Homo sapiens: one gene and its partners. The main gene of each other region encodes a partner of the protein of the gene in region 2 in a complex. Each region holds a gene or a part of one and is shown on either strand. Other genes may lie near its edges. The genes, in order: SMARCA2, DPF3 and SMARCB1.

What was found.
Region 1: DPF3 (region 2) and SMARCA2 share a complex: the UniProt entries of both Homo sapiens proteins name them as parts of the BAF complex.
Region 3: DPF3 (region 2) and SMARCB1 share a complex: the UniProt entries of both Homo sapiens proteins name them as parts of the BAF complex.

What each region holds. Positions count from the first base shown.
Region 1 is NC_000009.12:2,189,820-2,193,472, forward strand, and holds part of SMARCA2 (SWI/SNF-related matrix-associated actin-dependent regulator of chromatin subfamily A member 2), read left to right. Parts: intron 1-1,446; coding exon 1,447-1,589; intron 1,590-2,884; coding exon 2,885-2,920; 3' UTR 2,921-3,653. UniProt on the Homo sapiens protein: ATPase involved in transcriptional activation and repression of select genes by chromatin remodeling (alteration of DNA-nucleosome topology).
Region 2 is NC_000014.9:72,617,969-72,621,621, reverse strand, and holds part of DPF3 (zinc finger protein DPF3), read left to right. Parts: intron 1-1,637; coding exon 1,638-1,719; intron 1,720-2,254; coding exon 2,255-2,325; 3' UTR 2,326-3,653. UniProt on the Homo sapiens protein: Belongs to the neuron-specific chromatin remodeling complex (nBAF complex).
Region 3 is NC_000022.11:23,793,417-23,797,069, reverse strand, and holds part of SMARCB1 (SWI/SNF-related matrix-associated actin-dependent regulator of chromatin subfamily B member 1), read right to left. Parts: intron 3,512-3,653; coding exon 3,382-3,511; intron 1-3,381.

The DNA of each region.
Region 1 (3,653 bases), on a different chromosome or scaffold from region 2:
CTCTTCTGTTAGCTTATGTTTCTGTGGGAGATTTTAGTTTTGGAAATATTTTGTGGGTCCCTCTACTTCACAAAAGAAGTCTGAAACAAACACTCTCATCTCCTTCTGGAGCTAGGATTCCCTCTATGACAACATCTATTTCTAGATGCCTTGAGACCCACCAAACATGGTAGTCTAGCAAAGCTAGCTTGAATGAGAGACCCACATTTTCAGTGCCTTCATCATCAAATACCAAAAATGGTATTCTGTGGATACCTATCCCAAATAGCTACCATGGAGCAGATTGTCTTTGTTCTTTGGGATATGTACCTATATTTGTGATATTGTACCTTGAACTCTTCCAAGTGTTTCCATTGGTATCCCCAGAATAGTCCTGTGAAGGTGGAAATGGGTGCAGTCTTTCTGAAGGCTAATCTGACAGAGCACTGTTAGAAATTTACCATATGGACATGTCCACCATACCTCCCTCAAATTCTACCAAGATACATTGAAATAGGTTCACAGCAGCTTTGTTTATACTAGCAAAAAAAGCAGCAAACTTCAGCCCTCATCATATGAGACTGATTAAATAAATTATAGTATACCATACGATGGAAAATTTTCAGGTATTTAAAAGAATTAGGCAGGTATGTATGAGGCTTTACCTATAAATATCCCACATATGTGAGTAAACAGCCAAGTGGAGAATATGGACATGTATAAAGATCCCTTTGGGATAACTACATAAAGAATTCAAGTATGTACGTGTGTATATATACTTACTTGAATTCTTTATATTCTATAGAGAGACTTTTATAGAATATGTAGAATCACACACACACACATACACACAGAGAGAGAGAAATGGATGTACTTGCAGGTATGGACATAAACATTTTTTTTCCTGGAAATAATTAGTTATAGGGAAAGAGACTAGGAATGGGGGAAAGGAAGCATTCAAAAGTGTTTTCTTTTTACTTTCCATTTTGTACCTTTATGTTAAAAATATGATTGAACTATTTGAATTTTCTTTTTAAGTCAATGGAGTTATCTACATGGTAAAATTATTGGCCTTTAAACTCTTTACATTTATTTATATTTTTAATGTAAAAGTTCTATTAAATGATTGCCCAACACCTCCACAAGTAGAAAACACTTCCCCTCATTATCCTTGGTCAGCCATTGGGAGACAGGTGAAGGATCCAGCCCCACTGTCCTCCATGAGACCTCGGTCCCTCTTGTTGCCTGTTTAGCGTGACTACATCATTTATCTTCCAAAAGAAGACAGGTTGGCAAGTGAAAGGGGTCGCTGACTAGACAGAACCACACAGAACAGGCATAAACCGGGAATGTTCTGGGCACTCTGGGATGTTTGTGTTGTCTGTAGGTTGGTGATAGTCTTACCACCTATACAAAGATCTCCTTGTGATTACTCACTGGTGTCTATTTCATTTGCTTTGGTTTTAGCAAAATCAGTCAAGGTGAAAATTAAGCTCAATAAAAAAGATGACAAAGGCCGGGACAAAGGGAAAGGCAAGAAAAGGCCAAATCGAGGAAAAGCCAAACCTGTAGTGAGCGATTTTGACAGCGATGAGGAGCAGGATGAACGTGTAAGTGTAGCCGACTGGGACTGAAGGCGGAGACGCCCTCTCCCCTGCTTGCTGGCCTCTTGCATTTCCATGCCCCTTCAGCCTTTTCGCTTTATTACCCAGGACTGGAAATGTCAGGATTTAGTGAGATTTCATTATTGAGGGATGTGAACGGAGCTGTATGATTTAGAACAAAGGATTGGGGGCTTTGTTTATTGCCTTTTTAATAGTCTTCAAAAATGAAAAACTACCAAATCAAGCTTCCCTTTCCCCCTTTTTAATCTTCCCACATGCTTTCTTATAAATATGGTTTTCCCCGTAGCCAGTTAATATTTTACATGCATCACAGCCAGCATGGTGCCTGGTACATAACAGTAGATTAGATGGAAGAATGAGAAAAACTGTTATGACGTCAGAGTTATTGGCTCGAGTTGCTACTTAAGGGACCATGTAAAAACTCAAAGGACTTTTTAAGTACCTAGGGGTGTTATTTTTCATATTTGAAAAATTCAGTGAGCATCTATTGAGCCAGGCCTTGTAATAGGTACCTCCCTGTGTGGTAGCATATTAAATACTGATGTCGGCATCGTGAGATAGATGTCACTCTCAAATAACATGTTATGGAAATGGTTAGGTTATGGGTGTTTTGCTACAGATCACGTCGCAGAGGTGGAATTCGGACCCGAGTAGCATAACTCAGTCTAGTGTGCTATGTCTGACTGGGCAGCAAGGTAGAAGAGTGGGCAGAAGCTCCTAATACCTTGCCTTTTGAAATACCCTTCATTTCATCCATTCACTTTCCAGAGGATGGTTTCCTGGCACCCACATTATTTTCTTTCTGGAAAGATAAATTTCCCTTTTCCTAGTTTGATTTTCCTTCAACACATTACCATTTTGGTAAAATTTCAGAATTATGATCTCACCCCAGCCTTAACCCTTGATGCAAGCATTTTCAAATACATTTTTCTTTAGGAGATGTCAAATGCAGGGTATTTTTTTTTCTCCCATGAATTTTCTAAAACCTGGGGCTGAAAAAGAGAAAATATTAGCCATAAACCTTTCAAGCCAAAGTGAAAGGGCACAAACAATAGCTTAGAGGGTGGGCTTTGCTTTGGGGTTTTTCAGTAAGAAAAACTTCTCAGCTTAGAGACTGTCGATGCCTCTTTAATGTGTTTCTGTCCTCCCACGGAAAGAGATTTGGCGAGTTGTTTCCAAAATGTCATTTTTTCCTACTGGCCTCTTGATGGTTTGTTGTTATATCTTCTTTTTCTTGCATGTGATGTTACTTCATTTTATCTTCTTATTTTTACTTTTAGGAACAGTCAGAAGGAAGTGGGACGGATGATGAGTGATCAGTATGGACCTTTTTCCTTGGTAGAACTGAATTCCTTCCTCCCCTGTCTCATTTCTACCCAGTGAGTTCATTTGTCATATAGGCACTGGGTTGTTTCTATATCATCATCGTCTATAAACTAGCTTTAGGATAGTGCCAGACAAACATATGATATCATGGTGTAAAAAACACACACATACACAAATATTTGTAACATATTGTGACCAAATGGGCCTCAAAGATTCAGATTGAAACAAACAAAAAGCTTTTGATGGAAAATATGTGGGTGGATAGTATATTTCTATGGGTGGGTCTAATTTGGTAACGGTTTGATTGTGCCTGGTTTTATCACCTGTTCAGATGAGAAGATTTTTGTCTTTTGTAGCACTGATAACCAGGAGAAGCCATTAAAAGCCACTGGTTATTTTATTTTTCATCAGGCAATTTTCGAGGTTTTTATTTGTTCGGTATTGTTTTTTTACACTGTGGTACATATAAGCAACTTTAATAGGTGATAAATGTACAGTAGTTAGATTTCACCTGCATATACATTTTTCCATTTTATGCTCTATGATCTGAACAAAAGCTTTTTGAATTGTATAAGATTTATGTCTACTGTAAACATTGCTTAATTTTTTTGCTCTTGATTTAAAAAAAAGTTTTGTTGAAAGCGCTATTGAATATTGCAATCTATATAGTGTATTGGATGGCTTCTTTTGTCACCCTGATCTCCTATGTTACCAATGTGTATC
Region 2 (3,653 bases):
AGTAAGATCTTTCTAAACTGCAATCTGATCGTATCACTCCCCTGTTGATAACTCTTCAAAAGCTTTCCTGTTGCCCCACTGACGGGTTTTAGCATGACAAAAAAAGCCCTCATTGCTTGCTCCCTGGGGATTCCAACAGCTATATCTAATTTTATCCAGGATTTCTGCACTGGTGGGGGCCAAGGTGAGATTTGATATAAAACTTTATTTTGAAAAAGGCTCATAAGCCATCCAAACAGTTTCAACAATCACCAAATAGAACAGAGCTGAAACTAGGGGGTGGGGCCAGATCACAAACAGTTTCCGAGCAGCTCCTGTATGCAAGGAAGTCTCTACAGTGGATGCAGTGATGAGGAAAACAAGATTTTGCCCCCAAGGGCTTTATAGTCCATAAAGGGGATAAAGGGTGGAAAAAAGAGGCATGTTCCAAATGAACTATTCAAGAAAACAAACATGTAGATGTCTTTTTTTTTTTTTTTTTGAGACAGAGTCTCACTCAGTTGCCCAGGCTGGAGTGCAGTGGTGCGATCTTGGCTCACTGCAACCTCCACCTCCCGGGTTCAAGAGATTCTCCTGCCTCAGCCTCCTGAGTAGCTGGGATTACAGGTGCACGCCACCATGCCTGGCTAATTTTTGTATTGTTAGTAGAGATGGGGTTTCACCATGTTGGCCAAGCTGGTCTCGAACTCCAGACCTCAAGTGAACCACGCGCCTTGGCCTCCCTAAGTGCTGGGATTACAGGCATGCGCCACAGCGCCCAGCCAAGAAAACAAACGTGATTAGATGTCTACCACATGCCAGGCATGTAACGTAAAGGAAAATGCATTTAAATGTCACAGAAAGGGAAAGTACCACAGGGCTGCACGAGGGAAGAGACAACTTCCAGTTGAGGTAGATTAGCAAAGACTTTGTGGAAAAGAAGTGCTTGAAGAAGACGTACTTGAAGGGCAGGCAGGGAATGGACATGCAGAGAAAGGGTCAGGGCCTGGGAGAGCCTCCAGGCAGAAGTAGCCATAGGTGCAAAGATATGGCCTGTGTCCTTTGAAGTTAACCACAACCCTGGGGTGCCCTGCTCTCACCCGGGCTCCAGCCTCCAGACAGTGAGGAAGCTTCTGGAAGCCGAGGGATGGCGCTACTTGCATTTTTCTACATTCTAATGAAACCCTGAAGAGGTTCTGAGGTTCATCCCAGTACAGCTGTTGGCCATTTCACAGATGGAGAGAGTGGAGTCCAGAAGAATTCAATTAAGATCTTCAAATATATAAAGTCATGGAGAATAGAGACATTTTCTGCCCTTTGGAAGCAGAGCTATTGGCTTTGGAAGTTCAGAAGAATAAGGGATCCCTTTAAATTTGGATGTGAGGTGTTAGTCACAGAAGGCGTCTTGGAGGAGGTACGAGTTGAGCAGAACCCTAAAATGGGGGTAGGATTTATATAGGCTGGGAGGTAGAGGGGGAAACTCCAGTTGTGGGAAAAGCACAGGCGTGTTCAGGGGACAGTGAGGACTCCAAGTGGGGCCTGGAAAGGGGATCCAGTGAGACCGACGTGGAAATAAGGCTGATGGGTAAGCGGGGGCCAGACATTGGCCCCGAATAATGGAATCTCTCCTCCTCTGTGCTTACTCTGTGTTCCACCAGGACCAGCTACTCTTCTGCGATGACTGTGACCGAGGCTATCACATGTACTGTTTAAATCCCCCGGTGGCTGAGCCCCCAGAAGGTAATGATGATGAAGTCAACAATAAGAACAGCAACAGATACTACTACTACTAGCACTTACTGAGCTCTCACTATGGTACAGGCCTTATGCTAATGGGTTTACATGTTCATGTCTTGTCTCATTTAATCATCACAACCCCACAAGGTAGGTACGACGACTGCCATTTTACAGATGAGGAAACTGAGGCACAGTCCAAGCAGCTGAAATTTCAACTTGAGGGCCAAGGAAGTTTTTCCCAGACATGCAGTGGAGATGACCGGGAGGTGTGAGCTTCCAGGAGAACTGGCGCAGGCCCGGCGACACTAGTTTGGAGGCATGACGCTAGTAGTGAGGGTCTTGATAAGAGTTGAGCCCATCTCCTCTGAGCACCTGCTTTCTGCTGAGCCACAGACTCTGGCACGTTTTCAGGCCTGGGACTTGGTTTCTGCATTGCCAAAGTTCAAAGGAAACAGGATTTACAAGAAGTTAGGGCCAGTGGGGTGGGGCTCCAGAGTTAGCAGAGGGGCTGCTACTAAAGCCGTCTCATTTCTTGCAGGAAGCTGGAGCTGCCACTTATGCTGGGAACTGCTCAAAGAGAAAGCCTCAGCCTTTGGCTGCCAGGCCTAGGGCCCCAGGTCACAGAATGTGACTCGCTGCTGGAGATCCTAAAGCAGAGCCCAGTTCAAACCAGAACGCGCCCTCCTCCCACATATCCAGCCAGACCAACTGCAAGGAAAAGAAATAGTCCCAGAGGGGCAGGGACACATGGAACGAAGAGGGTGAGGCATCTCCTGACCTCCCCCGATATGTACGGAACTTCAGCCAGCACCTCCTTGTCTCTACCGGAAGGAAGTTGCACTTTGGGAGAACACCTCCGGCCCCAGCCCTGTGGAACCCCTCTCACTTTTACCCTAGCACCGAGGCCCTCTCATTGGTTCCCATTTTAAGGGAAGCCATTTCCTGACCACTCATCCATTACTTGTGTGTAGTGTGGTGTTTTTTTATCTATTGTGTTCCAAGAAATCTTGGCACAGCCCCCGTGCCCCCAGCTTAGGGTCTGCATCCTGAAATTCTCACCTGAGGAACAAAGGGCTGTGGAGAAGTTGTCGTTTATGGCAAGCCTCACTGGAAACTTCTAGACTTGGGGTCTTGAAACCCTTTCTTGTTCCTTGGTGTCTGTGGAGACAAAGAGTTGCCTTCTAGAACCCCAGCAGTGGCATCCACAGCCAGCCTGGTCTTGAGCCACTGCTTAAAGTTACTAGATGGGGGCGGGGAGGGAGGGAGACGCGCAGAGACATGGGAGGAAACATTGTGGAAATGGTGCCAAGGCCCCGCCATAGCCAGTCAGTACTTGTTATCCATCGGGAGAGACTTTGCAAGAGGCCAGGCTGGTTCCTTGACCTTCAGAGCTGGGGCATCCTTTAGGTGAGACCAGTCATGGCCTATGGACAGAGGAAGACGGTCAAGCCTCTGCCTCTCAGCCCACCTGGTTCTGGAGACCTGGTTCAGCTTCTCCTGGTGGGACTGAAGAACCAGGAAGGGGAGCGAAGGCTGCCCAATCATGTGTCCGAATGCTGGATACAGGGGGCTGCAGCTTTGAGAAACCTTCAGTATTGATGCGACGCTCTGAATTCCTTTTTCCAAGTAATTTCTTCCTTCCACGTAGTGTTTGTTCGCTATTGTCTACTGAGACCTGACTGGGAATTTTAGGATGGGGGAGAGAAGATTGTTATCTAAACAAATAATTAGGGTGACATGGTCATTATTCACGACCAGGGTGGCCACATTTTAGAACTCTCAGTGCGGGGGCTGCTCTTGTCTCCTAAGCTCCCCAAACATGCAGGACTCTTGTTTTCAAAAAAAAATGTGTCTAGAAGAAAGAGGTGGGGAGGCTGAGCTTCCGAGAACTCTGTGTGTTGGAAGATAGCCCCGAGGGCTGGAGCGGATTGGGCTGA
Region 3 (3,653 bases), on a different chromosome or scaffold from region 2:
GCCGAGATTGCGCCACTGCACTCCAGCCTGGGCGACAGCGAGACTCCGTCTCAAAAAAAAAAAAAAAAAGAAAAACAACCTTCCTTCCATTGCAATCCCAGCATCCCTGAGAGAGGGCACCCAGCCTCTGCTCAAATTGTCCGATGACAGGATGGGGAGGGTGCCATAAGTCCCCTTATTGGGCTGACTGAGTAGTGTGGAGCCAGCCAAAGCCACTTCCCTCAAACCTCTGCCAGCCCCCACCCCTAAAGACTTGACCTCCAGGGCAACGGGATTCCACTCCTGCAGCTGTTCCTCACGACATGATCACCAAGAAACTGTTTTATCGCCCCATAAAAGATTCCCAGCTGACATGTGCAGAATTAAAGTGCCCTCCATATGTACACAATTTCCTTCTGCAACTTCCCTGGGAAGGCCAAGCCATCCTTATGTTCTTACCACATCCCTTGGGGGAAAAAGAATCTGCAAAGCACACGTCTGTAACACTGGCCAGCCTGGAGGCGTGCCACCTTTCAGGGGAATCATAAAAAAGATTTTCCATAACCACATCACTCTGAACAATAATCCTTTTTCTTAATGCTCCTTGGGCTTTGTGCAGAGAAATGCATACTTTGTTGAGAGCTGAATGCACAAGGTAGATGGGTACAATCTTGTATTCTGCACGTCTCACCCACAGGACCCGTCTCGGGTCACTGCAGAATCTACTTAATTATACCATGTATGGGTCACACCTTTGTCCATTCAAGTGGCTGACCCGTCACTAACCTAGCCTTTCCTTAAAGGCTGGATACTTAAGCGACTCCATATTCTCCAGTATTATTCACAATGCTACAGAGAATCTCTGTACATATAGTGGGTTTACTGATTCATTTTGTTCTTTGAAAATGTTTCTTTGGGACAAATTCCCAGGGGCGGTATTAATGGGCCAGAGAACAAAAAAGTTTGATGTCAGGATGCTTTACAGAAAGGGCACTCCCGGCTGGGCACAGTGGCTCACACCTGTAATCCCACCACTTTGGGAGGCCGAGGCGGGAGGATTACCTGAGGTCAGGAGTTCGAGACCAGCCTGGGCACAATGGTGAAACCCCGTCTCTAATAAAAATACAAAAAAATTAGCCAGGCATAGTGGTGCATTCCAGTAATCCCAGCTACTCCAGAGGCTGAGGCAAGAGAATCGCTTGAACCCAGGAGGCGGAGGTTGCAGTGAGCCGACATCATGCCACCGTACTCCAGCCTGGGCAACAAGAGTGAAAACTCCATCTCAAAAAAAAAAAAAAAAAGCACCTCCAGCACACATGAGTGCAGTTCTATCACACCTTCCCCAATTCCTTATGTTGCCAGTTTTTTGTTTTATGCTTGGAATTTTTATTTTTATTTTTTATTTATTTATTTTTTATTTTATTTTATTATTTTGAGATGGAGTTTCACTCTCGTTGCCCAGGCTGGAGAGCAATGGCGCAACCTCGGCTCACCGCAACCTCCGCCTCCCGGGTCCAAGTGATTCTCCTGCCTCAGCCTTCCTGAGTAGCTGGGATTACAGGCATGCACCACCATGCGAGGCTAACTTTGTACGTTTAGCAGAGATGAGGCTTCACCATGTTGGTCAGGCTGGTCTCGAACTCCTGACCTCAGGTGATCCGCCCGCCTCGGCCTCCCAAAGTGCTGGGATTACAGGCGTGAGCCACCGTGCCCGGCCTGTTTTTTATTTTTTTTAAGAGACAAAGAGTGTCGTTCTGTTACCTAGGCTAGAGGACAGTGGTGTGATCACCACACTCAGCTAATTTTTTTAACTTTCAGTAGAGATAACGTCTCACTATGTTGCTCAGGCTGGTCTCCTGGGCAACACAGTCAAATCGTGGGCTCAAGCGATCCTCCTGCCTTGACTTCCCAAAGTGCTGAGATTACAGGCATAAGCTACCATGCCCAGTCTTATGCTTGGAATTTTTGAAATTACACATGAGGGCAAATTCTTTCCATGTTTGTTTACTCCCTTGTACTTCAAGGTATGGACCATCTTTTACCTATTTGTTGGGGTATCCAAGTTTGTTGTATAAATCTAGATGTATAGATTCTAGATACAACATCGTAACTTCCCAATTACTTGGTTTTTTAATTGTTACTATAAATACTCTTCTAAAGGTTCTAAGTTTTGTTTTGTTTTTGTTTTTTTTGAGGTGGAGTTTCACTCTTGTTGCCCAGTCTGGAGTGCAAAGGTGCAACCTCAGCTCACTGCAATCTCCACCTCCCGGGTTCAAGCAATTCTCCTGCCTCAGGCTCCCGAGTAGCTGGGATTACAGGCATGTGCCACCACACCTGGCTAATTTTGTATTTTTAGTAGAGATGGGGTTTCTCCATGTGGATGAGGCTGCTCTCTAACTCCTGACCTCAGGTGATCTGCCCACCTCGGCCTCCCAAACTGCTGGGATTACAGGTGTGAGCCACCGTGCCCAGCCAGGTTCTAAGTTTTTATACATTCAAATCTATTGTTGTTTCTTTTGTGAGTTTATGTGAGCCACTGATTTTTCTGACAAATTGGTCCCACTTACATGTTTTTTTAAGAAATGAGGTCTTGCTGTGTTGCCCCAGGCTGGTCTTAAACTCCTGGCCTCAAGCAATGCCTCGGCCTCCCAAAGCGCTGGGATTACAAACATAAGCCACTGTGCCCCACGAGTCCCACTTTCCAAGCATTTGTAACTGTTCTCCGGAATCCAGGACTTGGCTTACGTTTCTTAGAAATTCCAATGATATAGAAGAAACTTAGAAACCTGGCTAAGAAAATGTATAAAAACAGAGGGAACTGTTAAAAAGTGTTTCAATACAAAAATCAGGACCGGGCGCGGTGGCTCACGCCTGTAATCCCAGCACTCTGGGATGCCAAGGCGGGCGGATCACCTGAGGTGGGGTTTCGAGACCAGCCTGACCAACATGGAGAGACTCGTCTCTACCAAAAATACAAAATTAGCTGGGCGTGGTGGCGCATGCCTGTAATCCCAGCTATCTGGGAGGCTGAGGCAGGAGAATCACTTGAACCCAGTAGGCAGAAGTTGCAGTGAGCTGAGATCACGCCATTGCACTCCATCCTGGGCAACAAGAGTGAAACTCTGTCTCAAAGAAAAAAAAACTAGCCAGGTATAGTGGCAGGCACCTGTAATCCCAGCTACTTGGGAGGTTGAGGCAGGAGAATCGCTTGAACCTGGGAGGCAGAGGTTGCAGTGAGCCAAGATCGTGCCACTGCACTCCAGCCTGGGCGACAAGAACAAGATTCCATCTCAAAAAAAAAAAAAAAAAGTGTTTCAATTTAACTTCAACCCAACCAGTTCTTGAGTCTCAGAAAAGACCCCACAGGTGTCCCCAGAGATGCCCTGGCCAGGAACGCATTACCTGAGGTAGGTGGGGGGCTCTGTGCTGATGGACACAGCCTTGTACTTCTCATCGTTGCCATCCAGAATCTCTTCCACTTCCGAGGCTTTTAACAGGGTCACACTGGTGGCTAGAGTCGTGTATCCGTGATCTGTAACAGACAAACATCACTGGGTCACTCTGCTGGTGGCGGTGGCACACAGCAGCCAGCCAAGTGGATGCAGCACATCAAGGTCCTCGCATGCGGGAGGTGGGAAAAGCAAGGTGTCAAACTTACTACTGCTGAATGCTGG